Regions from separate parts of the Homo sapiens genome. Here regions 1, 2, 3, 5, 6 and 7 are each linked to region 4. Evidence: fine-mapped expression QTL. A gene starts in region 4. Each other region holds a variant in brackets. All regions are shown on one strand. Distances are between the middles of the regions.

Region 1 (4,065 bases), 130 kb before region 4:
TTCCTCCATGTATTATCACCTTCTTCCTCTCACTGGAATTCTGTCTTGGGAGTTATTTAACTGATGTGCAGAAATCTAAATTTAATTTATTATGCTCTAACTCACTTTAGAAGCCAAATTACCCTGCACTGGAGAAGGATCAAGTCAATATCCCACTTGGCTTTCTATTTATCTTCTGTGGGGGTTTCTCTCCTTCTCTTTAGTATTCATTTTTATCTCAGGTACTGGTAATAAATTTAAATTTTCCTCAGAATTAAGCAATTGCTCCTTCAATGTTGTAGTTTAATGGTTAGTATTAATTATATGAAAGGCACTCCTTAAATAGTTTGATAGATAGAATGGACATATAATAGAGGAAGAAAGGGCAATTTCTCGCACCAAATGAGGTAGCACATAATTCAGCAGGGATGAGTTTACTTTTCTGTTCTACCTCCTCCTGTCCCTTTTCCCCACTTTCCTCCTCACCCTCCTCCCTCAACAGCCAGGTGCCTAGAAAATAAGTCTGCTAAGAGTTGCTCTGCTGTGGCATCTCTGAGCCCCCGGAGGGTCTGCCAGCCAGGCCAAGCCTGGATCCCTCTTTAGTGTGGGAGTCTTTTTCCATTTGATTTCTCTCTCATTTAGTCTCTGACAACAAAAGCAACCACTGCCCATCTCTCTCCTCCCCACCACTTCGCCCATAAACACTCTCCCCACCCATGTCTCAATTGCGCTCCACATGCATTACAACTTTGGGGGAAGCTTCCAGCTTTCTGGAAGAAGAAAAGTTCCAATAATTATTATAATTGCCTAAAAATTCCAACAGTGAAACATAATATGATTAACTGAATGGACAGAAGCCCGGTTTTTGTTTCTGGAATAGAAAAAGAAACTCACATATTTGGACCTTCTATGGAGATTAATTTACTTACAAATTAGCACGAGAAGGAGGTGCCAGGGAAGTCTAAGTCAGCATGACTGGGGAAGCGGGCCTGGCTCCCAGGCACGTGCCAGGAAGCGTGAGCTCTAATGCTGATGTATCTGCTTCCTTCTTATCAACACCCTGTAAATTCCACCACCAAAGACTGAACCCAAAACTCCCTTATGTCGATGGGCATCCTGGATTGCTAGTCACTTGTCTGAAGAACACATCCCAATTGCCGGTGGACATGAGGACTGAGAGAGCTGGTCCTACCCACACGCTTTATTTCTGCATCCCCTTCTCTTTGTGTTCAGAGACCAGAGCGGCAAGCTGGTCACTGGAACAGGAGAAGAGTCTGTGTCCTCCAGCTCTGGTACCCAGGGAGCAGGTGATCTAGGAGGCAGGGAGCCAGGTATCCACAGGGGACTCAGGAAAAAAAGGATTTGGTGGACTGGGTGGAAGCACAGGAGGGTGAATTTGCCTATAACCAGGAGGCCAATACTGGAAGAGAACAGGCACTGAGAACAGGAACCAGTACCCAGGAGAGTCCAAGGGGAGGGATTGGATGTAGGTAGAGCAAAGCTGGAAGTGACTCAGAGAGGGCAGCTTCAGCTGGATGGAGCTGGATAGAGCTGGATGCTGAAACATGCTGTCTCTGGTGTGCACAGTTGAGCCATCTTGGATGCAGGGTCAACTCATCAGACAGAGGGCAGGTCTGCAAGGGTGAGGCTGCAGCCATCTCTCAGAGACAGCAATATCAGAGAAAGGAGGCCAAATCCTCCCAGGGTGGCCCCACAATGTGGCCAGAGCAGCCTCCAACAGGACAGGGAGGGGCCGAGTCAGATGCCCACCCCACTGAAAACCACTAGGAGGAAAATAACCCTAAAAATAAGATTTGGATTTATCAGGGACAGAGCAGCTCTCCCTCCAAAAGCCAGGCTTCTCTCCCCTCCTTAGCTCACTGCAAAGGACTGGAACATATCTTAAGGCACCATCAGAAAGCTCTCTAGCCATAAGAAATAGCTACAGGGAAAAGCAATTTTCAAGAGGCCCTCTGAACCAAGGTATCTAGCAGGGGTCATGAATGAGCAGACCTGGAGTCACTGAGAAATGTGAGCGAGAGTGGATGGCTTGTAGGTGCCGCACAATACCTGCCTAGTTACACTGCTTTAAACCTGCTCTTGGGCAAAACAAAACATGCCCATGGGCTGACATTGGCCTGCTGGCCACCAAATTGTGACCCCTAGGACACTAAGGGAATACAAGGAAAAGGGTAAAGAACGGAAAAGAAGGGAAGAATCAAACAATGGAAAAGTGATCATAGTAAACATTATGCATTTGTGATTTTTCTCCTTCAAGGGATCCTTTGTTGTTTTCAACCCAATTTTAGCTGGACAGAAATGCAGCCCCAAGAGCTTCTGTGTTGTGTGTGTGGGGGTGGGGAGTGGAGATGGGCTAAAAAGGGAAGCGCAGCCCCAGGGATGACTCCTCTAATTCCAGAAAGCTG[G/A]GTCCTGAGCTTGGCTCAGCTAAACATATCCTTTCTGGTCAGTTTCAGAACCTCGTGGTCAGTTTCCTCCTCCTCCCAAGGACAATACTAATCTTCACCCTCACCCAGCTTCATAGCCCGAATTAGGCTTCAGAAGTGAGATGAGACATGAAAAATTGCTTGGTAAAACATAATGCATACACAACATATTATCATTACAACATAGCTGTGGTTACTATTATTTCTTTTGGTGACTGAATGCTAATGGAGGGAAAACGCAATTTACAGTCAGTCAATTTAAGTTTAGCTGCTTCTCCCTTCCCTGTGGCAGAAATGGGGTCTCTGACAGCATCCACAGATGACCGGGTGCCTCACCTCACTGTCCGTCTGTGAGAATTGGTCATTATCAATGTGAATGCTTCCTGGGACTCAGCAGGTGTTTTCTACCCAAAGCTCCATCTCACACGAGTTTGAGCACAGTGCCATGCAAATGATAAGACAAGAAAACTATTTTAAGAAGCGTAATACATAAGGTTATTATCAGCTTAGAAGGCTAGAAATTGAGCTTTGTGCTAACTTGCTTTTTATGCACGTGGAGAGTGGGGGCTGGAGCCAGCACAGAAGCTGTGCAGGGTGATTCTGGAGAGAGACTTGGGTGAGATTAGAAGCCTGGACCTGCCTGAGACCCCATACTCCGAGGAACCTGGACTTCAGAGCTTCCTGCTTGACTTCTGGTCCCTTCTCCTCGTCTGAACTTAGTCCCGAAGGGACTTCTCCATGCCTCCCAGGACTTTGGCTCCATGGGCTGGAATGGCCGGTCCAACAGTCACACTCACGAGGAATGTGTTTAGCATGGTTTGCAGCTTCCTCAAATCTCCCTCTAGGTTCTTGCCAGGCAAAGATAACCTTGAGAGAAATAAAGATGGGAAGCTGTGGGAAGCCAGGCGAAAGAACTGGCTTTAAAAAGTGACTACTTCTCACACTAGATACAATCACCCAGAATAATGACAACGACAACTACTGCAACTAATAGTGGTGTAGCGTTTACTACACACCAGGCTCTATCCTAAGAATGTCCCTCGTTCTATACTCAGAACAAACCCAAGGCAGGTGCTTCTATTAATCCCATTTTACTGAAGAGGAAACCGAGTTTCATGGTGCTAACGTGACTTGGCCAAGGTCACACAGCAAGTCAGTGGAGGTGCTGGGATGAAACCCAGGCACGCAGATTCCATGCACAACCTTGCAAAGTCCCTGCCATGATAGGGGATCATTCATAGAGTGAGGCTTCCAAAACCAGTGCCTGTCTGGAGATAGACCTGGGAAGGATGAAGGAGGAGGCATGGCAGGAAGCACAGTTGTACATTTTCTGCCAAGGTTATTCTGGAACCCCCTTCCTTAATCCACGTGCCCAAAGGTGCTAAACTGGAATATGGCTAGGAAGACAGTTTCAGAGTCAAGTGCCCCTAAGCCCTGCCACTCAATCCCCAAAGGTGACATTAGCAAGAAGCTTCCAGCTTTCAGCTGAGCAGAATTTGTTCCCCTCTCTTCTACGCCTGCTAGGGGGAGGATAGATCTCCCCAGATAGTATGTACAGCAAGGGCCCAGAGCTTAGCACATTTTCTGTCTTCTCTGTAAATAAGGTGACATCAAGATACCCTCTAGCTCTCTCAAAACTAGG
Region 2 (4,065 bases), 32 kb before region 4:
TTACAGATTCCTATTTTATTCAATAGGTTGTAATCTAATACTCTGATTATTTGATATTTACTTTGATGCTCATATTGTTCTCAATTGGTCAGTGGAAAGTCCTTCAAGCCAGCTCCTGTGTCCTTTTGACACATCCCCATCTTTTCTTGAGCATTTCCTGACTTTCTGGCAAGACAAGGTCTTTCAGGTTCATTTTATACTTTTTCTGCCCTATCCCTTAAGTTAGCCACTTCTCTGAGGCCCCCTGGTAACTTGCAGTGTAGGGCACTATTTAGAAACCAAGATCTCTGTAATCCCAGCACTTTGGGAGGCCAAGGCAGCCAGACCACTTGAGGTCAGGAGTTCGAGACCAGCCTGGCCAACATGGTAAAACCCCATCTCTACTAAAAATACAAAAATTAGCCAGGTGTGGTGGCCCATGCCTGTAATCCCACCTATTTGGGAGGCTGAGGCAAAAGAATCGCTTGAACCTGGAGGCAGAGGTTACAGTGAGCCAAGATCATACCACTGTACTCCAGTCTGAGTGACAGAACAAGACCCTGTCTCAAAAAAAAAAGAAAAAGAAAAAAAGAAACCAAGGTCTGAGTACTCACCATGCACTCATTGCTACTGGAGTTCCACTGCTTTCGGACGAAGGAGTTAAGAAAAAAATGTATGTATATATGTACATACTGACACTTCTAATTCCAATCCAGCATGCTAGGACTTTTCTAGCCTTCCTTCTTTCCATGTTTAGAAATCCCCTTTCAAACAGTAAAAAACACGGTTCCTATTATCCTCTTTATATTTATTTACTTGCTCAATAAATTATCCTTTCTCTTAACCAATCTTCCAACCATTCTAGCCATGTCCCCTGCCCACCACCTCCACACCCACTTTTCTACCCTGCTTTCATAGAAGGAAAAGGAGGCAAGGGGAGGGGAGGGGTTATTCCCTATCTTTCGTGTCTAAAACTTCCCAAGGCTATAATCTTGGTATGAGCTGTTCTGGATAATTTTGCCCAACACCCAAATTCGTGCTCTTTCAACATTTAGATTTAAGTCTTCTTTTAGATCATGAAAGCCTTCCTAATATTTTAAATATGTTCCATTGTGTGTGTTTTCTGTGTGTCTATTTTTTATGTCTGTTATTTTTTGTTTTCTTTCAAGAACTAAAATTATGCTTCTGCTGGCTCTCCACTGCCTGTCTTCTATGTCAATCATTTTCTCTCTAATCTTTATTAATGCTTCCCTTATTTATGTTTCATTTATTCACCTTTCATCTATGTTCCACACTGCATTTTCCACAGTGTCTATTTTCCCTTGAGATTCTTCCAACTTCATCTTCATTTCTGAGACCAATTTGCCTTTTTTTCTTTTATTTCCTCCTTGAGTTCTGCCAGCTCACATTTCACCACCTCTTGCCATTTTGTCATCCTTTCCCAAGCATTTACCTCTGCAAGTTGGGTCTTTCTTCACAGAAATGATTGCTTTGTTGAGTTCTTTAAATTCACTGTGAAATACTTGATTAGACTTTTCATCTGCTCCCTGAAATTATTTTCCTGGGAATGTTCCTTATTTGGGGGTAATTTTCGTGGCTCTTGCTGACATTCTTCCCC[CT/C]AATATCATTGCTTCTAATCTACCAATGATCCTACTTTCTTTTTTATTACTTATTGTTGTATGAGATGGGCTTTCTTGGATCATTTCTTTGCAGGAAGTTCTGAGGATGGAAGGAGGGCCCAGGGTAGACTTTCATTACTGAAGTAAGCTTTCTTTGTGGAGGAGAGCTAATGACTAGAAAGAGGCACATGGAGATTTCTGGGCTGCTGAAAAGATTCTGTACCTTGATCTGAATAGTGGTTACACAAAAGTTTATCAAACTGAAAAATATTTGTGTGCTTTCCTGTATGTTATATCTCAACAAACATGTTAAGGAAGGAAAGAAGGAAGCCTCTTTTATTTGCTGCCAAAAACATTGTTTCTTGCAGTTAGGTGTCTTCTGGATGATCCTTTGTATAAATGCACCTCCTCTGCTTCTCTGAATCAAAGCAGGCCCAGGAGGTACGTTTCTTCAGTTTTGCTCACCCTAGTCCTTATTTGCGTTGATTACAAATAAGAGATGTTGCTTTGCCTCTTCAGGATGCCCCTTATATCCAGGATGTGTATTTTTTCTGGCACTCTTTGCCACCTGCTATTCCTGAGCCCACCAGGTACTCTCCTAAACCTCTACTTCCCCCTCATGGCCTCTCCCAAACCCTCCTGCTCAGGACAGCCCTTGCACACATTACACATTCCACAGATTGTATCTATCCTCTAATTCCACTGAAAATGGCATTTCGGAGTTTTCTATTGTTCTCTTTGCTGTTGTGTCCAGCAACAAGGAGACTGTAATGGTATCCAGGAGGAAGAGCAGAAGAGGTTGTCTTGTACAGCAGCCACATTATACAGGAAGTCCTATTTGCCTATTCCACTGATTCACCACTACATCTCAAACGAGTCACCTCTTGAGACTCAGTCTCTCTATTAGCAGAATGGGAAGGAAAAAAATGCTGTCCTTCTCATTAGCTTCTTCTTATCAAAGAACAGTAGGGAAGGCACAGACATGAGGCCAAGTCTGTTTGCCATTATGAAGGGTTTCCTAAACGTCAAGCAACATGGTGCTTTCCATGGTGCTGATGATTTCACCTCGGTCCTGTTTCTCCTTTAACTTTCCCCTAAAGCTTGAGGGCTGCTCTCCCATAGACCATCAGCCAAAAAAACAGCTGATTCTTTAGGACTAGGATCTTACCCCACACCTCAGACTCTCACCACCTCCCCAGCAACCCACACACTCACGCTGAAACACACAGCAGATTCTTCAAAATACCAATTAGCTAGCTGTCCTGTCTCATATCTCTGGCTGGCTGCAAAAGTAGCAGTAAGAACACGCCACTACTTGGCACCATCTGCCTGGCTGTGAGCAAACATAGGCTCCCCAGCCAGGCAGTGTAATTCAGGAAATACCAAGGCCAGACTCCTGCCTCTGACCCCACATGAACCCTGAAGTTTCAGGCTACAGATGGACAACATCAAATCACCAGGGCCCCAGGACTCCACCATCACTACATCAGTCACAAATATTGCCCTTACTAATAGAAGTGGCAGATGGAAACATAAATTCTTCAAAAGCAATTTGCTTGCCAAGGACTAAGGAACGTATGAATGAAGTGTGAACAGTAAGTTTTTTCCGAGTTAGGGAGGCTGGACACGTCACCCGCTCAATTACACAGGCGGGCTCTAGAAGACCTAACCCAGTTTAATTTTCCATCAGGCTGAAAACATCTCTAGCTGACTTAAAGGCAAACACAAGGGTTTGTTCTCTCTTCCCTATGCTACTCCTTCAAGGAAGGCCCAGATCTTCAAGAGCAAAATGCAAGAAAGGTAACACTGGTTGGAGCATTGGGCATTCGGTTTTTCCAAAAGAATGAGGATAAAAACAATCCTTTGATAAAATAATCCTTTGAAATCATATGCCCTTTTTCAGAAGACTCTGTAGCACACAAACAGTGTCCTTGGGGAATGAGGACTATATAAGCATTAATCATATGCATGCTCTGTGATGGCTGTCATGGCTGGAGGGTCTAGCAGGCACCCAGCATTCCTGTCGGCAGCTCCCTGCTCCCTACTGAGCTTTGGATTTTACAAAGGCAAGCACAGCACAGGTTGGAACAGGCAGACTGAAAAGAGCTTGGACTATGGGCATAGAAGTCAGGTTCTAAGTAAGTTCTGCCATTAACCAGCTGATACTCTTGAGAAAGTAACTTCCTCTCCCTAGTCTCAACATCAACCACGGAGAGGGCAAGTAGACCTGATCAACTCAAAGGCTTCTAACCTCAACAAGTGAGGATTCTGGTTAACCTCTTGCTCAGCACAGCTGTTATCTCATTCCCAGATTCCAACCCCTAACACCATAAAGGGAGGCCTTGTGCTTGGTGAATCAGCTGCCACTTCACCCAGGCCTGGAATGCAGCTGTTAGTTACTGTGGCCAAATGCAGCCATTACTTCAAAACCAACAGCAGTGGCAAATGGCAGAGAAAATAAAATTCA
Region 3 (4,065 bases), 26 kb after region 4:
GTGTAAACCCGGACACAGTGGACTGCCATGAAAGGGCGATGTGTTAAAATGAAGAAGGTGATGTCATGACAAGCACAAGCAGATGGATGAAAGGAGCTGACAGCTGGTCACTATGGAGTCTTCGAAAGCAGAGCCCATTGTGCTTGTGGAGGGCTGGCCAGGGGAGGAAGGCTGTGTACATCTGGCAGCACAGATATTTCATCACTGTTCTGCAGGGGATCAGGCTTGTCTCACTCCTGGGTCCTTAACTCTGTTTAGCCATCTAACAATGTGTTTGCTTTTCCAGGTACCCAGGAATGGCCCTTCTTGGAGGGCAGACATAAATATCTGGTCATTTTAAAGGGGCATCCTTCATTGACGATTGATTGATACATTACAAGGACATGAACAGGACCAGTGGGGACCCAGTTTTCCAGAGGCTGGTCACTTCTGGGTGCCCTGCTCTGGACATCTGTGAACACCTGCGCCTTGAGCTGTGAAGTCCCCATCACAATATGGCCCCTCAGAGGCTCAATCAGATACTAGACTTCTTCTCTTCCCCACCTCCCCACTGTTTCTTAATAAGGGTGGGGTTATTTCTATACTCCCAATATGCTTTGTCTAAAAAAGCATCTGAGTGCATTTAACCTATTTTGTAGAAAGTTGCAAAGGCAAGAGGAGAGATGCTGAGCACATCCAAGAAATGACTGGAAATTGGCTACTGAGACCATTTGGCTGGGCAGGATGAGGATACAAATGTGAGATGGAGGGAAAACATTTCAAATATGAAACATGAGTGCAGTAAGCATCTGAGAATCCTGTTCTATGGCTGAGCTTTCTCCCCTGTATTATGAAGGTGGAGAGACTTAACTGATTTAGGAATAACTGGCCATGCCTAATTCCGTCTTCCTATCTCCTAGGAGGCAGCAGCCACAGAGAGCCCCTATTCTGCTCTGCCTCTCTGGGGGAATGCTCCTCCCTCTGCCCCAGGACCTCTTTCCAGGCTGGGCTGCATGGCTGATGGGGTTTGGAATTATCAAGCCCACATGCCCACTTGGTTAACAGACCTAATGCAATATCACTAACTTGGTTCTATCAGTAATAAAAATAGTATTTGAACTTTAGTTTTATTTCTCAACTTATTAAGTGTTCTTTACCACCACACACTCACAGGAAGAGATATGTGATTTATTGAGGACCCCAACAGGTTTTGTGGAAAAATCACACGGTTCGAAGCTAGGAGTCCCATGTTTGAGTTCTGACTCCATCACTTCCCAGTCTAGGAGCTTGGGCAAGTCATTTAGCTTAGCAGTTCTCCACAGGTGGTTTTTGGACCTGATATTCCAGGATCCTTTTGGGGGCCTGTGAGGTCAAAACCATTTTAGTAATAGTACTAAGCTGTTATTTTCCATTCTTGTTTGTTGGCATTTATGCTGAAGGTGTGCAAATCGAGGCAGTGGAACCACACCATACTAGTCATTGTGTTCTCTACCACCACTCACTTGCAGCAAAAAAAAAAAAAAAAAAGCCAATTTCATTTCAGAATGTCTTCAATGATGCAGTAAAAATGATTACTTTTATTAAATCTCAACCCCTGAATACATGTCTTTTCAATATTTTGTTGTGAGGAAATTACACATAAAGTGAGCAATTTTGTAACAGAGTGCCTCTGTTGAGAACCCTCCCAGGAACAGCTATCCTCAGCACCTAGGGGACAGATTTCCAGCAAGTTCTGCAGCATAGCACCACAGTGGCTTCCCTGCCATTCCATGAGCCACACCCCTGCCATCTGCAGTCAAGTCTGGATCAGCTCTAAGTAAAGGGCAGAGACCTCTTTCCTGGTCACTCTATCTCAGCTGTAGGGTAGTGGATGCCCCATATCTGCTATTGTATTGTTTAGTATCCCCCTTACATTTTACTATCTAATCCCTCAATTACTCCAATGCTCCGTGTAATTTTAAAGTCTTTATATTAAACTTCCTTGTTCAACTTCCTGTGTGGTTTCTCTCTTCTGACTGGACCAGGTTGGTAAGATGGTTTCCTCTACAAGGAGATCTACCATCTACCAATAAGATGGTTTCCTCTACAAGGAGCCTCCAGGC[C/T]GTCCCTGCCCTGTGTCCAGCAGTGCCCTGAATGTTCATTAAGATTCTGTGGTAGCAAAAAAGAGATTTTTAAAGCCCCTGACCAAGGGCCTGTTCTTGCATAGTGTGAACCTGGGTGGAGAACACCTTGTCTCATACACCGAAGACCCCATTTGCTTCTTGGGATGTATCTCTTGTGCCCATTTCTTCTCACAAGATGAATGGGGAAAAAAATGCCTTCCCAGCTGCGTGGGATAAAACCAAAGCTGAATAGTAGCTCTGAAATTGGCTAAGCTTCTTCTTTCTTCCCCTACTGCTCTCAGGTCCTTCCTGAGGTTGAATGGCTGGAGTGAGATAACTTGGCCGGCCTCGACACTGCAAGCTGCCCCTCTCCCCACCACACTCTCAACCTGGGCTTCATCTGGGTCTCTGATGGCATGAGGTGGGATGGTGCAGCCATGAGGATGGGGATTGATGGCAGACTTCATTGGAAAGAAACCTCCCAGGGCCTTCTGGGGTTCTAAGAAACCAGAGAAAGCCCAGGAAGAGTAGGTCATGAGGACCTGTCACTGCAACTAGAGTAGGTCACTTATTAATACATTCTCTGAACTTCTTCCCATTTCTACTTGGGCCAACATTTCTTTTGCTAAACTACCAGCTCGATTTCTCCAAAATGCCCTATGTCCTGTTACAACTACTTGTCTTACAACCACTTATTACTCTCCTGATGAGTTCTGGTGTAATGCTCTGTCCCTTTCCCATGCTGCTCCTCCTCTCTAGAGCATCCTCCTTTCCCTGGGTACGGCTAAGCTTTCAGGTCCAGCACCACATCCTCTGGGAACTCTTCCAGGACTCTGAGGTTGATCTGAGCACCCCAGGTGTATTCCTCACACCATGAACTGAGCAACCAGACTGCCGTCTCATTAAAGACAGGAACTGAATTTTCATCTCTATGCTAGGATCTAGCTCAGTGCCTCTGTGCCTATATTTTTTAAAGAAAAAAGTACACAAATAAAAAAATAAAGGACTACTTGTCTTATCTGTGCTTGAAGTTGTTCAATGCATGTCTGCTGTTACTGAAGGCTGGCTAAATGTCATTAATACTAATGAAGAAACCAAGGCACAAAATGTTTAGGCGACCTGCTTAAGTCACACAGCCAATAAGTGACTGAGGCTGGACTCTAACAGGTGGCTTCTCATGGATGACATTTGGAGGAGCTACAGGAGGGTGATGTTCTTGGAACATAGGTCAGGCTGGCCAGGAGGGCATGAGGGTCTGCCAGGTGGTTGCTAAAATTACTTCACTTTCTGTCCTTTTAGGACTAGGGAGGGAAATCCAGGGTCACTGGGAAGCTGTCCTTGGCATGTGGTCGTAGGCATTGCTCAGCGTTCTCTCTCAGGGATGGTCCACTGTGATGAGGGCTGGTGGGAAGGGGGACTAATAGGCCTTATCAGAGGAACCAGCAGGGACTCCCTCCCCCTGCACCCTCACACACCTATAGACACAACACTCACATCTCAGAAGCCAAGCCAGACAATTGGAAGTAAACAGCTCTACTGCCCTGAGCTCCAGCTCCCAGGTTCTGGCCCCAAGTGTCATGGGGGGAAGTGACCTTGCAATAATGGTATCCTCCATGTCTACTACCAACTAGCTGTTCTGGTGACCAAACAGATGGGCTCAGAGACCAAAGGGGCTGAGATCACATAGGTGATAGGTCAATTTAAAACATACAGCAAGAAGCAAGGGGAGAGGGACAGGGTGGGACAACACACTTAGAACATTGTAAGAGAGGACAGAAGGAAAACATATGTCACCCTGAGTCATGCCATGCTTACATGTCCTGAACTCCACCAGCACTTCCTGCTCATGGTGTGATTACAAATACCAGAGCTGAGGTCTGAGCAAGGGGCACAAAAGACAGATGGTGCCTGGGGCCCAATCCCATCAGAGAGACATGGGACAAGTACGACTGGCCACAGATGTAGCTTATCAATTTATCTGCTG
Region 4 (4,065 bases):
CTACTATGCACCTGGCACACAGTAGGCCCTCTGTACTGTACTTAACTGGTGAGACGCCACCTCCCGCCCACATCTTCCTGTTTTTCAGTCTCCCATTTCCGACCATAAGCTCCTCCAAGGCTTTTGCCCAGACCCCTAGACGACTGTTCTGGACCCAGTTTATAAAGACTGCCTGGCTGGCCAGGAAATCCCCCAGAGGCCTCCTTCCGTGTCCCCGGGCCAAATCTGTGAAGAGAAAACGGAAGGCTACCATGTCACGAAAAACTATGATCAAATAAATTATTATGCCTTTTCTCCTATTGATCTGCCTTTTGTCAACTGATTTTCAGTGAACCTTCGGAGAGCCATGGGGAAGTTTTCCCTTTCCCCCTACAGGGCTCTGAATCTGAAGGTAAGAGTGAGCCTATAGGGGGAACCTTCTGGCTCCCTCACAGGAACTGACTGAGCAGGAGTTGGAAAAGCCACTTGGATTCCCATTTCCTCAACTCCCCGCCAATACCAAGGCGTCTGTTTTTACAGGCTCTTTCGTGGTGTTCTGGGCACATTCAACTTCCAATGCAGCTGAGAGGGTCGGGAACAGTTAGAGAACAGGGGTGGCAGCCGCCCGGGAGGCTGCAAGGCGCTCGCCCGCAACGCACAGGCGCGCGCGGCGCACCCGGCCTCCGGCCTCCCCAGGTCGGGCCTGGCAGCTGCGGGAAGGAGGTCAGCGCAGCCGCCACACTTCGCCCGGGCGCTGGCCCGACCCGACCGCCGGCGACTCTCTGGCAGCGCCCGGAGACCGCCAGCCCCTGGGCCGCCCGTCCGCAGAGCCCCCTCCGCCCCGGGACCCTCGCGCGCAGCTCAAGTTGGGAGCCCCGCTCCGCAGGCGAGCGCGCGCCCACCACCCACACCCACTGCCACTCATGCACACCGCGGGTCCGGAGATGCCCCCGAGCGTTTTAAAATCCAGAAACATCACATGGTAGCCACATCCGGCGGCTGTTACCTGCTCGCAGCACCCAGACCCTCGCCCTGGTTTCCCGGGAGCCCGCAAACCCGGCACGCGGGCTGCGCGCCCTCCCGCAAGCCACCGCTCAGCGCCAGCGCGCCGGCAAGCCGCCTACCTTAGGGGTCTGCACTTCAGGTCCCGTCGGCACCTCCAACTTCCTCTTGGTTACCCAGAAGAACAGCAGCACCGTGATCCAGAGCACCCCGAAGACTGGCAGAACCAGCCGACGAGTCAGGCGCCGCATGGTCCCCTTTGCCGCTTCCTCTCCGCGGCGCTACGTCCCGGGGGCACCCCCCGGCGGTCAGGGTTGGCGGGGCAGGAGTCCTGGCGAGCGCCTCGCTCTGGGGAGCTCTAGACCCAGGATCCGGTTGGAGGGGCGGCAGGATCCTGCAAGGCGCCCTTCCCGCTTCGAAGAGAAGCGAGCCTGGGTGGGGGGTGCAGGGCGACCCGAAACGTGGCAGGGAAGGACCGAGGGCAGCCAAGCTGGACGCCCGCTCCAGCGGGAGAAGCGCGGTGGCTGCCGAGATGTTCCCCACGCCGCCACCGCGGCTGCCGCCGCCGCCGCCGCCGCCTTGCCCGCTGCCGCCGATAGGGAAACTGACTCGAGCAGCGAGAGGGAGGAATCCGAGGCTGTGCCAAGCACCCCGGGAGGAGCACGAGGGCGGAGGGAGTGAGCGGGGAGGGCGGGCCCGACAGACAGGCCGACTCGGAGCGAGCCCAGGTGGGAGTGAGCGGGGCTCTGAGAGGGGGCGCTACCGCCGCCCGCCGACCGAAACGCTCGGTGCTGTTGCGGGGCCGCCAGCGCCAAGCCCTGGGCGCAGCTCCCAGACCATCGTGGGTTGGGGCAAGGCGGGGCGGGGCGGGAGCGGTGCACTCGGGATGCCCGCCACCCCCAGCTGCCAGCTGGGACCCAAGGGCCGGCCCTCGCCAGGCGGCGCTGTGCCTGGGAGGACTTTCCCGCTCATCGCGGGGGCTGCACGTGGCGCTGAAGCCGGGGTCCCACCCCCAATGTGCTCGTCCTACCACAGCCAAGGCTGGGATTCCAGGGCGCCGGCAGGGCTGCTGCCCCAAACCCGCGGTTCACTTGCCTGGCTACTGAGGGCCAAGGCCGCGGTCAGCCAACTCCCCAGGGTGTTTCTATGCCTGCCTGCAGGTGCCTGGTAACTTTTTCTGCTTAACGGAAGGAAAGCTGAGCTGGTCTAATTTTAACTTTAAAGATATCCTTTAAAAAATTAAGGCGCAATTATCTCCCATAAAGGTTTTCTCTCCCTGTAAGCATCAGGGCTTTGTGCTTGCAAGAAAAGAGGTCCAAAGTTGGAACAACCACTTGGGATTCTTGGAAAGTGACCCTGGGCAGGAGGATACTGGGTGCAGAGGGTGATCTTTCAAAAGCCCCTTTTCCCAAGGGCCTTTGGGAATTGTATCCCCCTCCCACTTGCAGATTAAAACCGCTTGGATCTAGAAGCAAAGCAAATTCTAACTCCAATTCCCATGTAGGCTCAAGTAGGCTGGAATCACGGCCAGATCACTGACCAGAGAGTACTGACCTAGCTGTCACACTCACTGTGTGAGTCTTGGGTAAGTCATTTACCTTCTCCCAGTCTTCGATTCCTCATCTGTAAAATGGAGGGAAAATACCTCCTCTGACAAGCAAATGAGTAGTGGTGAAAGCTGAATGCAAGGTGCTGGTGTTATCTGACCACTCAAAGTGGGGAAACCTTGCTCTGTCTGGGGAGCAGAGGCAGCGGGAACCATGCCATTTTTGTTGGAGGGTTGCTTGCTTCATCGAGTTTCTTGGGGAGGTGAGAACGATGCACCCACTGTGGCAGCCACCATTCTCCCTGCCCCTCTCTCCCCATAAAGCTCAGTGTAGGGCAAGCTCCCATACCTCCGCACAGGTGAGACAGCTGTAAATCAGGGCTCTGGAATTCCTTCTTCAATAAGATGTCTCCCCAAAGACATGTACTGAGAAATGGAGGCGTCTACTCAAAGCCTCCTGTTTTTGGTACCTTATCTTTCAGCCACAGGGAAGTCCTGCCTCAACCTCAGAGAGTTCTTGACTGGACTGTAGATAAGATGTTTGGGGTTGGGAACCGCAGTTGAAATTAAACAGCCCAGAAAAGGTGAGCACTGTTGCCAGCCCTTTCAAGATCTACCTGCGCTCTTAGACCATCACACAGAACCCCAGGGTTGATCTAGCATTTGCCTTTATCAGAACTCTGAACACTGAAAGGTGGGAGTAGGCTCCCCAGCCAATGCTTTGTCCCAGCAAAGGCCCAGGTAGATGATCATCATGGGAGGGGTAGGGGGAGCAGCAAGAGAACTCACCTCTGCAGCATCCCAAGCACCTTGGACCTCTTTCAGGAGCCTCACCCGGGACCTGCAGTTTCGGGCCTGCAAAGCGTTCTGCTGCAGGCTCTGCAGGGGACCCCCAGGCAAGCTGCTGAGCTGCTGTTGGCTCCAGGCAGAAGCTGCAGCACAGGAGTCCATTGCTCAGCGCTTTGTAATGCCGCTTCTGAGTAACAGATGGCAGACAGTTACACAAGAACACCGCCAAGCTTTTGAGATGGTGCAGCACCACCACGCTGCTCACCACACTGCTGAGATGCTGAGGTGCCTCATTCTGACTGTTTGGCATATGGGGAAACTGAGGCCCTGGGGTGAAGGCAGCTCCGTGCAGGGACTGCAATGTCTCAGAGAGTGGGAATTTCCTTCCAGGAATGATTTTCTTCTCAAATCATTATTTTGTCCTCTACTCAAGTGAGGAAGATTTCCTGGGCCTATGGAAGCTGTCAAGGGAATCCAGTTTTGCTAGGTGTCATTAGCTGATCCATCCAGAGATCATATCAGATATCAGTTTGGGTTGTCAAACCAGTAAATATCATTAGGACTGAAGTAGATTTCAAGTGGGACTTCAAACATCTGGAAGTGAAGTGAGTGTCCATGCGGGGCCTAGTTCTGTAGGTCTCTCCAGGAACCCAGTCTATCCAGGGGTCCCCCATGCTCAGGAATATATTTGAAACGCTTTAATAACCAGCTTTAAGCCTGGGCAACATAGCGAGAGCTTGTCTCTAAAC
Region 5 (4,065 bases), 72 kb before region 4:
GAAGAAGGAGTAAGTATATTTTAAAACTACATAGCCAGGTCTTCTCCTGGGAATAACTTTCCCATTGTCTGTATTGATCTCCAGAATAAACAAAGATGAGAAGGGAAAGAGTGGTAAAAAAAACTCTTCGCACGTTTAAAGTGATTTGTCTCCTCCCTCCTTGCTGGCAGATGAAGCGCTCACACTTTCAGGCTGGCTGAGCTTCTCCTTGGGTGATGAAAAGTGGGGGAGATGGAGGAGTGGCCAGAAGCAGGCCCCAAACTGGTCTCTTCTCTCCAGATCAGCCCAGAAGACCTCCCAGCTCTGTTCACCCACAGAATATACAGCCCAGATATCCATCTTGGTCCTTTATTGTCTACTCATTGGTTTTATTATTTTAAATATTATGTGGATGCTTGAGGTCTCCAGAGCCCTGAGGGCAAAGGTGATGTCTGATGTTTCACACTCTTGCCTCAAGCCTCCCGCTTCCTCACTCCTGCTCTACTGAGGGCTGAGATGATGGTGGAAAAAGCACTCCTGTGGGTCTGTCCCAGTCCCTCCACTGATGGAACAGTGATGTGAACTTGGACAAGTCAGTAGCGCTCTCAGAGATCCATTTTCTGCATCAGAAAAACGGGGAGAATACCTTTCAGGAAAGTGGTAAGAATTAAGGCAAATTAAATGCTACAGGTACAGCACGCAGCTTAGTGCCTGGCAAAGATGAGCAGACAAGATCATGAGCAGATGGCATCATGCTGGGGAGGGGAGTCAGGGCCAGCAAGAGGCCAGGAGGAGGGCCTTGGAATGGGCAGATGCTGCTGCTGCACACCTTCCTGCCTGGTCAACTTGATGATGGTCCGGCAGGGCCTCAGATTTGCAGACTGTATTGAAAAAGTTATGTGTGACTTGAAGCACTATGGAAGGCATCACATTCAAATCGTGCTGGGGAGCCTCTGACCTTGAGATAGACCATAACTAACCCTCCTACAAATCCCTCCTGCCGGGTGTCTGAGGAGAATGAAGAGCCCAGCAGAAGTCAAGAGGCAGACCTGGGTTTGAGTTCCAGCTCAGAATATATTCATGCCTTGTGACTTACCTAAGTATCCCCCAGAGACCATCCAAAAACTTAACCCATGGGAAGACAGTAGGGCACAGTAACAAGAGTACAGGCCTTCGAGTCAGGATTCCAATCCCCGCCCCACCCTCTTCCTACCTGTGTGACCTAGAGCAAGTGGCTCAACTTCTCTGATTCTTACCTTACCTCGCCTACAGGGCTGATATGTGAGAGAGATGAGATCATAGCTGTAGGTGCCCAGAGGAGGAGGCATACATGACAGGGCCCTTTTTCATGGCCCTGTTGCCCCTTTCCATCCCATGGAGGTTACATTCTGAGTGTGCTTGCTGTTCCATGCTTTGCATCGGCTCCTCAGCTGAGCTGGTTGTAGGCCCCCCCAGAGGCCAGGGCATTACCATTAAGGGAGACCGATGAAGAATTCCTAGCAGCCTCCCAGCTGTAGAGCACCCAGGTGCCTGTCAGAAGCCAGAGGAGTGAGGCTGGGCCTCGACAGGGCCATTACTCACCCACACCACCGGAGACTCCAGCAGCTGCGAAAGGGTGCGGGGGCGGGGGGCGGGGGGGTGGTGTCCAGCCATCTTTAAGGGTCTGGGTTTGCTCGTGAAAAAGAAACAAGGGGCTTATTTATGTCACTCAGGCCCAGTGAGCAGGGAGGGGCCGTGCAGGGAAGCCTTTAATGAGCACTCTTCCCTCAGAAATGCTGACAGGAGTTGGACACGAAGTACATCTCGGCCAAAACATCATCATCCCCAGGATCCCAGTGGAAAGATAAACCTGACTGCAAATATTGGTTTCTGTGAAGAGCCGGAGCACAGAGCAGGCAGCCCCCAGGGCTCAGCTGCAGGTGCACAGAGATGCCC[G/A]CCCAGGCCAACACTGCCACCACTGAGAGCACCCCCCACCCCCCACCAAGGCCAGCCTGCTCCCACGGTGCCACACAATGCCAGCCTCCTGAGCTGGGCTGCCCTCCAGAAACAGAAAGGAGAAATCTAGTCACATAGAAAGCTGCCCAGGCTGTGGAAAATGCAATTTCCAGACCCAGCCAAGCTGGGAAAGGGGCAGGCTGCTGCACACCCACCTACCTCACCCCGACATTGCCCAGGGGCCTGGACATCAGCCTTTCCCTACCCTCTGTAACACCAGTGACACAGTGGGACCAGGACAGCCTTCCTCAGCCAAAAGTCTCCTTTTCCTTCCCCCAGCAGTCTTGGCATCATCATCCCTCAGTGACCATAGTATCTGCCCTGCCATTACCTCCCGCCAGCCCAGGGTCCTCTCTCCCCATCACCCAGCCTCCCTGGCCTTGGTCCCCTTATTTGTCACATAGGCAAGGGCAGGGGGCCAAACAGGAGATTCCCATAGTCAGTCTCAGTGCTCTGTGCTGCAGAGAGGAATGGCAGCAGGAACCTCTGAACTTCCAGCCATGCAGTGAGCCCAGGAGCAAGGGGTCCATGTCCCCACGGGGGCCAAAGAGAAGATGAGTGCCCCTCGTTACCCTAGAGAAGCCCTGAGAGTCTGGGAATGCCGTGCTGAGTGCAGAGGCACAGGGGTCACCGAGAGACTCAGGCTGTCTTCACGACATCCCCGGACTTTGCAGACTTTGAGCATCCTCTTCTGAGCCGGTTTTGTGCCGGCAGAGGGTGCACTCACTCAGGAAAGCAGGGTCTGCTCAGGACATTAGGTCTGCTGTAAAATAGGGTCCCTGGCTCTGCCCATGGTAGCTCCATGACTGAGGTGGCTTTCCATGCCTCAGTTTACCCAGTTTCAAAGACAGGAGAGCCTACCCCTCTAGCAGAGGGAGGACTTAAGAGTTGGAGCCAACTTGCACAGCAAAAATAAACCTCTGTCACTTCCATACAGCGCTCTGCTTCTACCACTATCAGCTCACTTAATTTTCATTAAAATGTTATAAAATGGGCATGTCTCACCCCATTTTCCAGACAAGGATTAAGGCTCAGAAGGGCTCAGGGACTTAAGTCACTCAGTGGCTAAGGCGAGTCAGGTAGTCTGGGCATGCACACCGTTACTCCTCCTGTGACCTACAGTCTTGGGGAGGAGCAGGCAGGAAGGCTGGGGACTTGGGCCCCTCATTCTGGAACCTGCTCTTCCTTCGTGTGGGCCTTGACTCTCTTTCTCTGTACCTGAAACAAAGCTCAGGAGCCACCCCTTCCTCCTGCCTCAAGACAGACTCTTATCCTTTCCCCAAGCCCTGCCCAGAAAGGGATTCCAAGTCCACTCCCAAAACTGGAAACTCTGGTCAGAACCCTGGAGCCCAGACCAGCAGACCCCTATGTTCCAGTTGCTTCTGAGAGAAGGCAGCTGTAGACTTAAAAAGGTCCATAATTGGCTGGGTGCAATGGTTCACATCTGTAATCCCAGCACTTTGGGAGGCCAAGGCAGGTGGATCACTTGGGGCCAGGAGTTTGAGACCAGCGTGGCCAACATGGCGAAACCCCGTCTCTACTAAAAATACAAAAATTAGCCACGTGGGGTGGTACACGCCTGTAATCCCAGCTATTCAGGAGGCTGAGGCACCAGAATAGCTTGAACCCAGCAGGCGAAGGTTGCAGTGAGCCCAGATTGCGCCACTGCACTCCAGAGATCACGCCACTCTACTCCAGCTGGGTGACAAAGCAAGACCCCGTCTCAAAAAAAAAAAAAAAAAAGAAAAGAAAAGAAAGGTCCATAACTAATAGCAAATGCATTTTGAATAGTGCAGAGCTACTCCTGTTCTACCTCCCCCTGCAAAGAAGCCACACTAGAGACAGTTCTGGGATAACCTTTCTGAACAGAGCAGCTCACCACTGCCCCGTGCAGACAGGGCAACAATGGGGCCCCTAGGTGTTTAAGATGAGGCTGGAGGACTAATAATAAAGCAGAAACAAAACAAATGTCCCTCAGCTGATGAATGGGTAAACAAAGCCAGCATATCCATACAATGGAATAATATTTGCTAATAAAAAGGAAGAAAGTACTGGCACGTGCTACAGCACAGATGAACCTTGAGAACATCA
Region 6 (4,065 bases), 200 kb after region 4:
CCCCCCTTTTCTCACACACACATGCACACACACACTCTCTCCTGTTTGGCAGGGAGAATGCATGGTTTGCTACCTCCAAAGGAAACCTCTCTTCCCAATCTCTCAAATTCTGTACTTCAATCTTTTAAACTCTTGAGGTAGATGAGGAGTTAATGGTGGCAAAATTAGTTTCCAGCCATCTCTCCGCAAGTCTTGCACAGATGATTTAGATTCAGCATCTCTCTTTGAAATGAGGGGATGTTTTTGCACTCATTGTTTTGTTTCCCATCTGTGGGGCTGCGGAAAGAATCCCATTTTAGCATCCTGTGACAGGAGCACAGGCAGATAGGCATATATAGGCATACAGGCATATTACCCTCCTCACCAGTGTTTATCTTGGGCCTCAAGCTTGCTCTGTCTTCTTCCCATTCAGTGTAACTAGATTTCTGTCATATACCCCAGCTCCCTGACCCACAGGTTTCCTAATAGAAGGCTCAGTTGACTAGTGGTGTATGGTTAAGTTTTAAAAAGCCTGGACCAGGAACCAGGCAGCCTTGCTGTCAGTCTGACTGTGCTACTAAAGGGCCGTAGGACCCTGAGCGAGTCAGTTTCTCTCTGTGGGCTTATGTTTCTCCTCTCTAAAATAGAGAGATTGAACTTGATGGTCTTTCCAGTTCTGGGATGCTGAGGTGGCCTGGGGGGTTGTGCAAGCCAGAGCAGGACAGTTCAAGGACAGAGATGACGCCAGAATCCCTTTGGGCAGTGCCTGACATTTCCACTTCCATCAATAGGTTGATTTGTTTCAGGTGACAAGATTGTCACAGGATCTGTCTCCTGCCTTAGGAACACGTACTCCCCCAGTTCAGGATAGAAACAAAACAAAAGGGCAGGCTCCTGGGCCTGGGGGGCACCAGGGTGACCTCATGTTTAAGGAAGCTGTATGTCAGGAATCATCTTGTCCCACGATCCAAAATAGGCAGCAAATGGACAGGTTTCCAGGCTCCCCCTCCGCAAAAGATAAAAATACCATGGGTTCGGGGATGTTCTCAGTCATAAATCAATCAGCTAAGACTATTTCTGTCCTTATCCCTTGCCCAGAGTTCCTCCTACAACCTCTGTCCTGCCCTCCTGTCCCAGCCTCCCAGCCACCTAGCTCTGGAGTAAGGGGAGTCTCATCAGCTGCCCTGATGACAACTCAGTACCCTGGCCGTGCCAGCAAGAGAATCCTCAGCCTGCCTATAAATGAAACGGTGGGCATCCTGGTGCCTCCATCCACCTCCGTGAGCCTGGCTAGCAACTGTCCACTCTGACAGGCAGGTGACTCCCAATACACACCAGGTTTCCTGGCCTGTAAGGGAGCTGCCCGCTGGTTGTGGTGGGCACTTAGGAGTAAATGTCTCTGAGTAAGCCCTCAGCATGGTCAGGGGTAGGGCTTCTCCTTCATGTGGTTATAGGGGTTAAAGGACCTACCTCGTAAAACCACTGGGAGGATTAAATGAGACCCTGTAGGTAAAGCATTCACCTTGTCACCTGGCAAGTTGCAGATACTCTGAAAATAAGAATTGCCTTCCCCTTGCTAGCCATTCATCTGGAGCTCAGACTCCCACGGCTGACCCATGTCTTTGGAGAGCTCCTTTGAGACTTTTGTCATTCTAAAACCCTAAGTCAGCTTTGAATTCAGCTCTTGGGGAAGCCTCCGAGGACATCTGGTCTATGCAGAGATCCTACCTAAATCAGTACCTAATGGTTAACAAATGCGATGCTGCTGGGCCACCTGGACAATATTGCCCCTTGTTCAATCTTCTACTGCCCTCTGCAGGTTCCAGGCGATACCGCAGGCAGTGTTGACTGCATTCCTTGTGCAACACCAAAAAAGACCAAGACATCTCACTGTATAGACTGGAAGCACTTTAAGACAACAGGGCAAGGCAAGGTGTCTCAGACGGACGATGCCTCTGAATAGCACAGTGATTTCTAGTTCACAAAGCACTTTCTTGTTGGATTTTCATGACCACTCTACTCTCACCTTGGTACCTAAGCACACAAGGGAATTCTGTGTCACTGCTTCACCCCAAGAGCTTCACTAAAAACAAGTGACAGGTCTCAGGCCCTGTCCCAGAACATCCCAGAAAATCATCTGAAATGGACCTGGATCTCAGTGTAAACACTCGTTTAGTTTTTAAAGCTCTTCTACCTTGACCATGCTGTACAACAGCCAGCATATCTAGGATACTCTGGAGAGGGATTTTTGTAAGAAAGTGTGTGTGTGTGTGTGTGTGTGTGTTTTCAAGAAATGAAGGCTGGCCAAGATACTGAAGATACTAGCATTTGGTGTGATGATAATTAATAAGCATTTTTCACACGCCAACCAGCTGACAGTTTCATTTATTAGTGACATCAAGCACCAGTCCAACTATATCATTTCCACTATCCTCCCTCCATGGCCAGAACCACAGATTCTCTCTGGCAGAAGGTTGGATTTATACAGTGAAGGCATGTGACAGTGACACATTGTCCACCCAGCACCA[T/C]GTAGGGATTAAATCACCATTTGGAGCAATAAAAGGGATGTTTGTTCTTCCCTTGTTCTCTTTACCAACCGCAGAAACTTGAGGTGATCTCAGCAGAGTTCATTAGACCCAGGTATCATATGACAGTAAGAAAACCAAGCCTTAGATAGCTGCAGATCCTTTATGTAACTGGAGTTTTCAGGTCATATATTTATAGGCTTTTAAAGCAGAAGACGTGAGACAACCCTTTACTGCAACCCTTATGTTTGCAGTAAAATGGATCACAGGAAGGGGAATTGACAGTCCAAGATCACAAAGATAGAGACAGAAGAGACAGAGCTAGGATGAGAACCCAGGCTTCTTGGCTCTTCTACCTCTGGTTGGGCTTGATTTTGATAGCAGCATTTTTATTTCTTTTTTTTTCTTCAGAGACAAGATCTTGCTCAGTCGCTCAGGCAGGAGTGCAGTGGCGCAATCATAGCTCACTGCAGCCTCAACCTCCTGAGCTCAAATGATCTCTCCACCTCAGCCTTTCAAGTAGTTGGGACTACAGGCATGCACTATCAAGACCAACTAATTAAAAAAATTTTTTTTAAAGACAGGAGCTCTCTATGTTGCCCAGGCTGGTCTCAAACTGCTGGGCTCAAGCAATTCTCCTGCCTTAGCCTCCCAAAGTGCTGGGATTATAGGGGTGAGCCACCATGCCAGGACTGATAGCATCATTTCTAGGTGGAAATTACTTTGGCTTCAAATGTAAAGATTAAACATAATCTTTTTTGTAAATACTCAAAGAGTATTTGGAATACAAATATTCTCTTCAAAGAGGAAGGGAAAGAAATCTAGAACATTGTACGTGCTCAATAATTGAGTTGGTTGGATTTTTGTATTATAGAGTAATCTTGCTTTATGCAGCTTCACAAAATCAGATCCAATTAACCTTGAATTTGTTTCATTCTTTATTCTTTCCAATGATTCAAAGATGGTTAGAGGATTTAACCTTACCCCACTGCCTCATTGCAAAATTTGAGTATAGATTCAAGGTTATGCTTTGCTGTTCATTGGTTTGAAGGCCAGGCTTTCACAGGAAGGCACACGATTTAAAGTAACTTCGGTTTAAGCTTCTAGAGGTTTGTGGGAATCCTCTTCAAAGGACAGACACCATCAGAACTTGAGGTTATACAGGCTGTCCAGTAAGTGGGGAATAGCACAAACCCTTCCCGACCCTATTCCAGATACATGATTAAAACAGACAGAAAATGATCCTAATTGCATATTCACCATTTAGGCATAACAGTTTTGAATTTGCTTATCATTGTGTTTACAAATTACATTTTTGATCAAAATCTTCCATTGCATTCACTTGTCTTCCAAATCCCATCTTGACAAATCACAGGTCTGTCATTCTGTGACTTTAATAGATCCATGTTCTGTGGTATGTTCCTCCTGCTCCATGGAAGCCCAAAGGCAGCACAAGAAGACTCTGCTGAGGACTCTCTCTTTAGACCCTCACAGACCAGGGTTTGCAGTTTTCTGGGACACCAGTGACACACTAGGAAGGAATGATAGTGTTCTCATTGCC
Region 7 (4,065 bases), 130 kb before region 4:
CATAGCAGAGGCATCCTTAACTATTTGAGGAGACAGGGCCCTATTTTTCAGTGTAATAGAAGCCATGGTCTTTTCTTCCCCAGAAATAGATGCAAAATTCTGCTCACAGGATCTAGGATCCAGTGCCACCCTGGGGCCACAGGAGGCACCTGGCTGTTAAGAGGAGAGGGCGCCTCTCTGAAAGATGAGCTCACACTGGCAGACCTGTCTGGCAGCAAATAAATCTATGATACTCTCCCTTCTCCCTCCCAGCTACCCCTCAGGGGGCCAAAGCTGGCTCCTCAGCTCTGCCAGCCTCTGCCCACCCCATGCCGAGCACAGTCAGGAGGCATGCTGTGCAGAGGGACTCCATAATTGGTCCCTGCTCTGTTTGTACTTCAAACAACAACCTTGAGATGTGTTCTCTGGACGTGCCGCCTGGCTCTGGCTGCCATAACGCTCAGCCGGGAAACACATCTCCAGAGATCCACAGCACTGGGGAAAAGCTAGGCATTCTTCAGCTGATGCCCAGGAGCTGAAGGTGTTTGAAACGGGCAGGGGCAAAGAAGGGTGGGGAACGCCAGTCTGCTCAGGAAATTCTCTACTCCTTGGTGACAGTTTCCAGTACAGAAGATATCTCCTCATTCTCTTTGCAGAGCCGACCAACAGATAAGCGCTGGGGATTTATGTCTTTAGACCTGTATTTAATTTTTCACACTGCTGCTGGAATGGCTCTTCTAAGACACGGTTGGATCCCACTCACAGAATAAAGGCCAAGTTCTTTGCCGTGGTCTGCAAGTACTGCCCTGGACTTTTGGTCTGGCTTAACCCTGGTTCCCACACACTGGCATCCTTCCATTAAACTGCCACCACCATGACTTTAAGGAAGCAAGCAAATCTGGTCCCTGCAACCTAATAGTGTCCCCTCTTCTTATGGCAGCACCTATAGTTACCTGTTTATTGGGTCTCTTCCACAAAACAGCGTGTGTCCTGGAGGCAGGAGTGTGGCTTTTCTCTCTGAGAGGTTGGTAATAAAAACTGCTCACAGCCTCAGTGCAGCTCTCCCTTCCCACCTCACTCCACCAAGGCCCTCAGGCTACAGACAAGGGGACAGACACAGAACTCACAGCCCTCAAACTATGCCTTGTGGAGGAAATGAACAGGCTCAGACATGGTGAAAAAAGGGTTAAGAATGAACTTGCCCTGAATCAGGGTGTGTAGGTCAAGCAAGATGCAAAGGAACTGCATGGCAATGATGCAAACATGCCCCTGTGTGGGTGGGGCCAAAACCAAAACCAAACAAACCAACAAAATGGAACACAGTATGAAAAAAAATCCAAAAACAACACCACCCACACACACAAAACAAAAACCCCAGTCTAAATAAAAACAACTAAACAAATGGAAGGAAATTACCCAAACGTGCTTCATGCTATGGAATAGCTTAAAAGCATGAATTTAATAAAATAAGAGCTAAAGGATTAGATGATTAAATAAAGCAATGGAATAAAGAATGATAAAACTGAGAACCACAAAACACTTTTGCAGAACCAATAAATACATGTTGAAACTCCAAGAAGCAGTGCAGGCACAGCAGGAAATCTAATTACTGATACCAACTAAAGGGTTCCAGTCCTGGCTCTGACACTCTTGAGCAGTGGGACCTTGGGCAAGTCACTGGGACTCAGAGGAGAAAGATTTAAATTATTAAAGCAACTACAGGAGAGAATAAAATGTATAGAAAGAGCAAAGGTGATCCAACATCAGAAAACTGGTGAACCTGAAGCAGAGAAACAGATGGAACACACAAAACAGTCTTCATCTTTTTAAATAAAAACCTCCTGAGATGAATAAAGATCTGAGTCTGCACATCAAAATTGCACACCACATTCCATAAAAAATTGATACAAAGGGATTGACACGAAGATGTTTCCTGGTTTAGGTATCGAACTTCCAAATGCAAGAAAGAAATCATCAAGCACCCAGGCAGAA[C/A]CAACAAGTCACCTACAGAAGGGGAAATGTTCAGCTGACCTCAAACTTCCCCGCGGCAGCTTTCCATGTCAGCGGATAATGAAGCAACACCCACGGGGCTGAGTCCAAATGTGACCAGAAGCATTTTAACCTGCTGAGGTGCCGTTCAAGTACGGACAGCAGGAGTGTGATATTCCCACATCCAAGCTCAGGGATGACAGCACCTATGAGCCCATTTTGAAGCAGCCACTAGAATCCACTATGGCAGACTTCTAATTTGGACCCCAGTCTGTCTGGCCCATGCTCTTTCTGTTAATGCCATTTCTGCTTTATATATGAATTTTGTTCCCACATGCAGTCAATGAAGAGGTGGTTCAAAATAAAAAACCCAAGAATGGAGCAGAAGAACCAGTAGAGCACTGAATCTATGTAATTACAAAACTAAAAGTAAACAGCTATGGGAATGGTCATGAAACACTACAAAAGTGTTATAGACTCTGACAATCTAAAAATAACGATTGTGCAGACAATGGCTTTAAGTTTCTGTCCCTGTAAGATTTCATGAAAGCTGCACTTAAGGAATGAAAACAGATGAACCTAAATTTTCTCAAGACCTATGCTCTGACACTGGCTCCACTGCTTACTGTTTATGTGATTTGGAGGAAGCTGCTTAACCTGTTTGAACCTCAGTTCCATCACCTGTAAAATGGGGAGAATAATGCCTATTTCACAGGGTTTTAAGAATTAAATGAAAATACTGTAGGTAAAAAGCAGTGGCTTGCACATAGTAAATGTCAATTAAGAGGAGAAGCTGACTAAAGATGAGAATAAAAGTGAACATCTCCCTTCCCCCTTCCTCCCCAAAAAAGGCAAGGGGGTACCCATCAGCTCTGGATCTGGATAGCTAGTGAGGCTCTGGGCTCTCCAGTAGGTTGCTGTATCAATTCACAATGTTGCAACTCATTGCAGGGAGAAGCCCCTCCCACAGAGAGGCATTGGGCCCCCAGTTTCCAACCACACAGAGAGCAAACTCTTTTCCCCAGGACTGAGGCAGAGAAACTGAAGACTGAAGGAAAAGCAAGCCTTCACCTCCTGGCAGGGGCATGGTGAGAAGCAGTGTGGATCCAGCTGCTTGCCAGTGGATGCCCCCTTCTGAAGGCCTGAACAGGTCCCCATATGACTAGCCCTGAGGAACGCAGCATGCTGGGACACACGATACATGTAGGTCAGCAAGTCAGATTCTAGACCCAATCTATCTGCCACCCACTAGCAGTGTGACCTTGAGCAAGTCACTTGAACTCTCCCTATTTCCTCATCGTAGAATAAGAGGGTAGGAGTCAATGATCCCTAAAGCACCCCTGCGTTTACCATGTATATAGAGTGCAAAGTTCTGTGTGGGTTGTACCCTTACACCAGTCTTTCCTGCCATAATTAATTCAACAAGAACCCCAGAGAAAGGAAGAGGAAGGAGAAGGAAACATGAGACAGAAGTGTAAATTAGCAGGTGAGGGAATGCATAAAGGAGGGAGGGAAGGGCTAAAGTTCTGTGGCCTCTGAAGAATCAACCACTCGCTAGCTTTAAAGAGGCAGGAGCTTGGCCGGGCACCGTGGCTCATGCCTGTAATCCCAGCACTTTGGGAGGCTGAGGTGGGTGGATCACCTGAGGTCAGGAGTTTGAGACCAGCCTGACCAACTTGGTGAAACCTCATCTCTACTAAAAATACAAAAACGTTAGCTGGGCATAGTGGTGCACTCCTGTAATCCCAGCTACTTGGGAGGCTGAGGCAGGAGAATCGCTTGAACCTGGGAGGCTGAGGTTGCAGTGAGCCAAGAGCGTACCATTGCACTCCAGCCTGGGTGACAAGAGCTAACATCCATCTCAAAGGAAAAAAAAAAAAAAAAAAAGAGATGGGAACTCACTCTCTGCCAGTGAGAGTTGAGAGTTAGTGACTACAGCCTCTGCAGGGCACCCCAAATCCACTCCTGACAGGAGAATTGCAGAAAGAAGGCAACTCTGCCTTATAAAAAGGGTCCGGAAAATCTGCCTCCATCTATACTAAAATCGATGGGCTAACAGTTGAGATGAATCAGAATGTCTGCAAAGTCTCAAAGTAC

Direction of the effects. Alleles are on the strand shown, and positions count from the first base shown. SD is a standard deviation of normalised expression in the study named. Not every link is listed here.
For the expression in subcutaneous fat of the gene that starts at base 1,586 in region 4, G is the low allele of the variant in region 1 and A is the other (moderate effect, 0.61 SD a copy in GTEx).
With allele A in place of G in region 5, the expression in spinal cord of the gene that starts at base 1,586 in region 4 is lower (moderate effect, 0.41 SD a copy in GTEx).

The links.
Region 1: its variant is fine-mapped to the expression of GALNT14 in subcutaneous fat (GTEx, PIP above 0.99). The same link has a PIP of 0.9 or more in macrophages.
Region 2: its variant is fine-mapped to the expression of GALNT14 in whole blood (TOPMed, PIP above 0.99).
Region 3: its variant is fine-mapped to the expression of GALNT14 in whole blood (TOPMed, PIP above 0.99).
Region 5: its variant is fine-mapped to the expression of GALNT14 in spinal cord (GTEx, PIP above 0.99).
Region 6: its variant is fine-mapped to the expression of GALNT14 in fibroblasts (GTEx, PIP above 0.99).
Region 7: its variant is fine-mapped to the expression of GALNT14 in whole blood (TOPMed, PIP above 0.99).

Annotation. Positions count from the first base shown.
Region 1 is chr2:31,002,943-31,007,007 of GRCh38, forward strand. All of the region lies in intron 1 of GALNT14 (polypeptide N-acetylgalactosaminyltransferase 14), which reads right to left. Among named protein-coding and RNA genes, the nearest start is that of GALNT14, 130 kb to the right of the region's middle. The variant G/A (reference allele first, on the strand shown) is at 2,406.
Region 2 is chr2:31,105,179-31,109,243 of GRCh38, forward strand. All of the region lies in intron 1 of GALNT14 (polypeptide N-acetylgalactosaminyltransferase 14), which reads right to left. Among named protein-coding and RNA genes, the nearest start is that of GALNT14, 31 kb to the right of the region's middle. RefSeq lists an enhancer at 2,379-2,880. The variant CT/C (reference allele first, on the strand shown) is at 1,598.
Region 3 is chr2:31,163,233-31,167,297 of GRCh38, forward strand. No RefSeq gene overlaps it. Among named protein-coding and RNA genes, the nearest start is that of GALNT14, 27 kb to the left of the region's middle. The variant C/T (reference allele first, on the strand shown) is at 2,082.
Region 4 is chr2:31,136,855-31,140,919 of GRCh38, forward strand. It overlaps GALNT14 (polypeptide N-acetylgalactosaminyltransferase 14), which reads right to left and starts at 1,586. Exons shown (of 15, transcript NM_024572.4): 1 at 1,104-1,586. The coding sequence starts at 1,232.
Region 5 is chr2:31,064,809-31,068,873 of GRCh38, forward strand. All of the region lies in intron 1 of GALNT14 (polypeptide N-acetylgalactosaminyltransferase 14), which reads right to left. Among named protein-coding and RNA genes, the nearest start is that of GALNT14, 72 kb to the right of the region's middle. The variant G/A (reference allele first, on the strand shown) is at 1,915.
Region 6 is chr2:31,331,974-31,336,038 of GRCh38, forward strand. XDH (xanthine dehydrogenase) reads right to left here. Exons shown (of 36, transcript NM_000379.4): 36 at 2,348-4,035. The coding sequence ends at 3,985. Among named protein-coding and RNA genes, the nearest start is that of XDH, 81 kb to the right of the region's middle. The variant T/C (reference allele first, on the strand shown) is at 2,508.
Region 7 is chr2:31,011,462-31,015,526 of GRCh38, forward strand. All of the region lies in intron 1 of GALNT14 (polypeptide N-acetylgalactosaminyltransferase 14), which reads right to left. Among named protein-coding and RNA genes, the nearest start is that of GALNT14, 120 kb to the right of the region's middle. The variant C/A (reference allele first, on the strand shown) is at 1,972.